2 linked regions of the Homo sapiens genome follow. The protein of the gene in region 1 purifies or fractionates together with the protein of each later gene. This does not show direct contact. Each region holds a gene or a part of one and is shown on either strand. Other genes may lie near its edges. The genes, in order: OR1N1 and PLBD1.

Region 1 (3,155 bases):
CAAAGGGAGGAGTTGGACTAAGCAAAATTTTCTTAATCCTCACTGAGCATCAAAATACCTGAGAAGCCTTCAGTTTTAGTTTTTAAATACAGGTACCTAAATTGTATCCTAGAAATTTAAATTTGACAGGTCTGAGGTAGGGATTATTATTTTTATCTTTATTTATTTATTTATTTTAGACGGAGTCTTGCTCTATTGCCCAGGCTGGAGTGCAATGGCATGATCTCGGCTCACTGCAACCTCCAACTCCCAGGCTCAAGTGCTTCTCCGGCCTCAGCCTACCAAGTAGCTGGGATTACAGGCACATGCCACCACACCCGGCTAATTTTTGTATTTTTAATAGAGATGGGGTTTTGTCATGTTGGTCAGGCTGGTCTTGAACTACTGACCTCAGGTAGATCCGCCTGCCTCGGTCTCCCAAAGTGCTGGGATTACAGGCATGAGCCACTGTGCCCAGCCGGGATCAGGATTTTAAATAAGCATCTCACTTGATTATGATAAACTGGTCTACAGACCAATGCTTGAGACCTCTGGGCCAGGTGATCTTTCAGGTTCTATCTAGTTCTTAAATTTCGTTGTTCTTCTGTAAAACACACATATAAAAGATAGTAAAGGCAAGTGAGACTAAATACGTTAAACTAAGAATACTGAGGGATTAAATATAAATGTGGTCCTAGAAAGTTACTTTCTATCTATATTGACTGATGGTACAGTCTCTGGAAACCATTGCTGTGGGTTTGAATTCTGTCTCAAATATTTATGAGCTCTGGGTCCTTGTACAATTTACTTAAACATCCTTAGACTCAGTTTTCTTATATAAGGGTAAGAATAACAATCTCTGCATCCTAGTGTTGTTTAAGGATTAAAGGAAACAATCTTCATAAAGTACTTAGTAGAGTACCTGTCATATATGTGGCTAACATGTAATATGCGTTAGCTACAGGATGATGATGATGCCAATGACAAAAACTCAAATGCAGGGAGAAATGCAGGACTTCGTATTTTCTTTTTCAAAAGAAATAATGAAAAAATAAAGAGGCATGAGTCCTTCATATGCCCTTCACTCTAAAATGAATGAGGATGTGTCAAAATTAAGAATTTTGTGTGGGTTTTTTGGCTACCTCCCAAAAGAATGTAAAATTTAGCTGACCTCAGTCTACTCACATAGACAGCCTACTGCAAAAATGAAACTAACATGAGGCTATAGACTAGTCTAAGGCATGGTCATGCCAAGGGAGAATATGCCCTGACCTTATTGGAAGGGGACTCTATGTGTAAAAGATTAAATAGTGGTAAAGAGAGGAGAAAGGGGGAAAATGAGACTCTGATGAAGAGAGAAAAGAAGCAGGATCAGAATGAAGATAAAGTCAGGATTAGGAATATAATGAACTTAAAGGGAGATTTGGGAGTCAGCCCACACAGTTGTAGATGAAATCTAGCATTCTAACTGTCTTCCCTCAGCTCCAGATGCTGCAGAGTCATGGAAAACCAATCCAGCATTTCTGAATTTTTCCTCCGAGGAATATCAGCGCCTCCAGAGCAACAGCAGTCCCTCTTCGGAATTTTCCTGTGTATGTATCTTGTCACCTTGACTGGGAACCTGCTCATCATCCTGGCCATTGGCTCTGACCTGCACCTCCACACCCCCATGTACTTTTTCTTGGCCAACCTGTCTTTTGTTGACATGGGTTTAACGTCCTCCACAGTTACCAAGATGCTGGTGAATATACAGACTCGGCATCACACCATCTCCTATACGGGTTGCCTCACGCAAATGTATTTCTTTCTGATGTTTGGTGATCTAGACAGCTTCTTCCTGGCTGCCATGGCGTATGACCGCTATGTGGCCATTTGCCACCCCCTCTGCTACTCCACAGTCATGAGGCCCCAAGTCTGTGCCCTAATGCTTGCATTGTGCTGGGTCCTCACCAATATCGTTGCCCTGACTCACACGTTCCTCATGGCTCGGTTGTCCTTCTGTGTGACTGGGGAAATTGCTCACTTTTTCTGTGACATCACTCCTGTCCTGAAGCTGTCATGTTCTGACACCCACATCAACGAGATGATGGTTTTTGTCTTGGGAGGCACCGTACTCATCGTCCCCTTTTTATGCATTGTCACCTCCTACATCCACATTGTGCCAGCTATCCTGAGGGTCCGAACCCGTGGTGGGGTGGGCAAGGCCTTTTCCACCTGCAGTTCCCACCTCTGCGTTGTTTGTGTGTTCTATGGGACCCTCTTCAGTGCCTACCTGTGTCCTCCCTCCATTGCCTCTGAAGAGAAGGACATTGCAGCAGCTGCAATGTACACCATAGTGACTCCCATGTTGAACCCCTTTATCTATAGCCTAAGGAACAAGGACATGAAGGGGGCCCTAAAGAGGCTCTTCAGTCACAGGAGTATTGTTTCCTCTTAGATGTGGTGACAGCAACATTTAATGAAAAGACATAGGCTTGGAGTCAGACAAACGGGCTTCATTTTGGGGTCTACCACACACTAGCCATAAGATTGTAGTCTGGTTACTTAGCCTCTCTGAGCCTTGGTTTTCTCATTTATAAAATGGAGATAACAGTTTCTATCTAATAATGTAACTTGGAGGATTAACTGAAATAAACTATGAAATGCATTCAGTATAGTAGTGAATAACAGTAGGTGTTCAATAAGGGATAGCTATTATTATTACTATTAGTATTCTTCATTCCTCCCCCAACTCAGAAGTCAAAAAATCTTTTCTCTGAGATATATTTGTTCAATAAATATTTACTATCTATGGTGTGTTGGAAGTTATTGTAAGTGCTAGGGTTATGACACTGAGCAAGACAAAGTCCCTGCTTTCATGACACTTTCATTCTAGGTTATTAATTTGTCGATCATTAAAATTTTGGGGGCACTTGTTTTGTTTGTGGCATTAAGTGGGGAGTAAGACAAAAGAAATAAAGATGGAGGCTGCATTCCATGTGCTGCAGAATAGCTAAAGAGATCCCCATCAAAAGGTTCAAATTCAATGTTTAGGTTTCCATGCGGGTTGCCCACCCCACGGTTGGCTAATGTTTCACTAGGAAGGGGGTTAAAGCTCCTTGTGCTACCTCTGCCCCATGCTGGTCAGAAACGTGCAATGCCACCATCCTTTTAGTGACTATTAGATGAGAGGAACG
Region 2 (3,829 bases), on another chromosome or scaffold:
TGGGCATATACCCAAAGGAATATAAATTGTTCTATCATAAAGACACTTGCATACGTATGTTCATTGCAGCATTATTCACAATAGCAAAGACACAGAATCAACCTAAATGCCCATCAGTGGTAAACTGGATAAAGAAATTGTGGTACATATACACAATGAAATACTACGTAGCCAAAAAAAAAAAAAAAAAAGACTGTCTATCAAATATGCACTAAAAGTAGAGTCTTAATACTAGAGCATCATGGCACCGTGCTCCCGGGGCTCGGTGATAGGCTGGGGCTTAGTCAGGCTTAGAAACTAATCCTGATTAAACGCTTAAGGAATGATCTGAGTAGGCCTAAGTCAATTGACTTCTGAGTACAATGACCATCATGGCAGGCCTTCACAATCGTTAATCGGAAGTAATGGCATTAAGAAATAGGGAGGTGTCAAATAATTTGCCAATAAACTGCGGGTGACAAATAATTGTCTGATTGTTAATGGAGCCATTTGGCCACAATTTGACAATTGTAGGCAGCACCCACAGAAACTTCCCTTCTCCACCCAAAGGCAATAAATGTGTTTTCCAAATCCATTTTTGACCATATATCCCCAGCTTTTCTCACACATTCCCTTCCACCCTCGACTCCAGGGAGCGTTGTAGGGAAATGAGGAAGTGTGGCTGCTGGAATAAAAAGCAGAGTCATAAACAGGAACCATAAAAGAAAAAAGGAAGGTGTGTCTCTTCTCTTTTCTTTCTACCCACAAAGCATGATTTTAGCTTTTTCTTCTTCTCCAAAACCTTGGCATTTCTCATCGTAAGCACCCCAGGCCTGCCTTCCCCTTCCCTTTCCAATCAACTCCTTTTTGCTGTAATTTGGGGCTTGCTCAAGGCAACCTGAGTACTAAACCAAGAGCTATGTTTTCACTGTTGCTGGTCCTACCTAATTTCCTGACCACAAAAAGAAACTTCTGCAAATATGTGCTTTTTTGACACTCGTGTACCTCCATGAATGAAAAAACCTTTACTCAATCCCCAAGAGATTTTGGTGAGAAAAATGTCCTGCCAACAGCTTAGCATGTGCTTTGAGAATAAAGCCAAAATCAGAGTTTTCACTCCACTCCAACCGAGGTCCTCCATTCCTCAATGTTTTCTCTAAGTTTCAACTCTTCCTGGTTTTCCCAGTATTCATGCTATTTTCTGATTTTCTTAAATCCTGTAATAGTTTAAGCCATTATACTTTTCCATTTTTTAAAAACATCTTCATGATGGGAGGTGGCTGGTATGAAAAATGTAATAGTGAAAAGGTAGAAAAATAGTACATAATTCTAATGCAAACCTAGTTTTATACAAGCTCTGTGAAAGCGCGGACTGTTTCTGCTTAACACTCTATAAACCTGACAAAATAATGTTTCTTTGATGAATCTAGTTTGTGTGTGTTCTCTAAATGAAAAGAAAGCCATTTATTTATTTATTTATTATTTATTTTTGAGCTGGGGTCTCGCTCTGTTGCTCAGGCTGGAGTGCAGTGGCACAATCACAGCTCACTACAGAGTGGAATTCCTGGGTTCAAGCAATCCTCCTACCTGAGCCTCCCAGAAAAGGAAGCTCATCAGAGCACTCATTCACAGAAGTTAGTATGAAATAACTCAAGTAATTATGTTTTCAAGCCTGGGTGAGAAACTTACTAAATGGCTCGGAATCTTGGATTAAGTCTACCCAGCCCCAAGAGCAAGAGCTATTTGTTGGTATTTTCTTTAGAGTTGTGAAAAGGAAAAGTCAGAATTCAAACATTTTAACAGCAATATCCTCAAAATCAATGCACTTGATTAAATATCTGTTGAATGAATGGGAATCTTATTTATAAAAAGTATTTTTTTCTATAAATAAAGATGGAAAATGTGCCATCATTTTTATATTTCTCTCTGTAAAAGCCCAAACACCAAAATTAAATTTATTTTATTAATATTTACTTGTATACTCTGATTAATATTTTATTTATTTAATTTTTTTTTTTTTTGAGACAGAGTTTTCGCTCTTATTGCCCAGGCTGGAGTGCAATGGTGCGATCTTGGCTCACCACAGCCTCCGCCTCCCGGGTTCAAGCGATTCTCCTGCCTCAGCCTCCCAAGTTGCTGGGATTACAGGCATGCGCCGCCACGCCTGGCTAATTTTGTATTTTTAGTACAGACAGGGTTTCTCCATGTTGATCAGGCTGGTCTCGAACTCTTGACCTCAGGTGATTTGCCTGCCTTGGCCTCCCAAAGTGCTGGGATTACAGGCATGAGCCACTGCGCCCAGCCCAATTAATATTTTCTATGAGTTCATTGTTTTCAGTTGAAAAAATTCCTACCCTGTCTTAGGAAAAAAAATGTATAAAATACTCATAAGTAGCTTAAACTATTCTCTCCCATATTTGGATTCTATAATAATTTTTCTAGCACCTCATTTATGAAAGAGCAGGTAGTTTTCAACCCCAAGCAATGCAATGTTTACTTAATATATTCAGAAGTCAGAGGGGAAAAAAAGAGAAAGAAATGAGAAAGAGATCAAGCAAAAGATGTTGGAGAAAATAGAAAAAAATTAAAATGAAAACAATCTATTCATATTGGGTTTAGCTAAAAATTCACTGGTTTTGGTCCTTGAATTGCTTTTCTCTTTTATGTCTGCTCGGCTAGTCTCTCAGTATACCTCTGTGTACCTTGGCATTGCACTTGCCTTCTTTGAAAGGTCTCTCAGTAAATTGATACCTGGTTTTTGGATTTGTTTTGACTCTTCATCGGAGTCACTAACGAAATAACTGATTTGTAAATTAAACAATCTCCAGTAAACAAAATTGCAAGTAGGTGTTTAAGCCTTGGCTCTCTCCAGATATCAGAGACTAAGATGCCTGCTGGAAGGAGGATTATTTTGGCAAGTACTTCCAGAGAACAGGAGTGGTGGGCTGGGAGAGTGAAAGGGAGGAACACCGATTGAAGGGTGCATTCTGAGCTGGTTTCCACTGTGGACACAGGGGTTGATCCCACTGGGACTAGCCTCGGAAATCTTCATCCCAGGGATGGAGGACCCAGCTACCTGCTCCCATACTACAAAGGTCAAACGTTGCCCTAGGAAGGGTTAACTCCCTCACTCCATGTCTGCATGTGCTCCAGGACTAAGTGGCTGTGATTTCAGAGACGCCCTGAGGTGGAAATTAAGAGATTTCTACAGTGAGGTTGAGATGAGGCACCTCAGATCACCTGCAGGAAGTGGAAATAAAAGGCAAGTGAGAGGATGTGAGGTGGGCCTCAGGGTCAGGAAGTGCAGGACACACTAGATAAGTAGAAAGGGATACAGCTTTAAAAACTAGCTTCAAAACAACAATCCACAAATGCAGAAAAATGCCGGAGATTTGCTTAGATCTGGAATGATCCCTTTCCTTCATCCCGTTGAAACATACCGATTTGTCACTGGCAGCTGAAATCAGAGTTCTTGCCAAAAGCCCTATCAGCTGAAAGTCAACTTTGCCCCATTCTGGTTCCATGCTGTTAGGTCAGTCCTCATCTAGATTACTCATTAATTATGCATTTGTGTCTGCTTGGTCCTAAAAATTTGATTACAAGCTCCTTGCAGATGAGAGGTGGAGTCTCACATTTCATTGTATCCACTCCCTTGGGCCTAGCACAATGCTTTATGGATTACGTGGCCACCTGGATCCCCAACTTTCTTTTGTTTTGAGACAGAGTTTCGCTCTTGTTGCCAAGGCTGGAATGCAATGGCACGGTCTCGGCTCACCGCAACCTCCGCATCCCGGGTTCAAGCAATTCTCCTGCCTCAGCCTCCTGAGTAGCTGGGATCACAAGCGTGCGC

What was found.
Region 2: the proteins of OR1N1 (region 1) and PLBD1 purify together in Homo sapiens (affinity purification with mass spectrometry; one large-scale study listed by BioGRID and IntAct). This does not show direct contact.

Annotation. Positions count from the first base shown.
Region 1 is NC_000009.12:122,525,619-122,528,773, reverse strand, and holds OR1N1 (olfactory receptor 1N1), read left to right. Parts: upstream 1-1,480; coding exon 1,481-2,416; downstream 2,417-3,155. UniProt on the Homo sapiens protein: Odorant receptor.
Region 2 is NC_000012.12:14,557,877-14,561,705, forward strand, and holds part of PLBD1 (phospholipase B-like 1 precursor), read right to left. Parts: intron 1-3,829. UniProt on the Homo sapiens protein: In view of the small size of the putative binding pocket, it has been proposed that it may act as an amidase or a peptidase.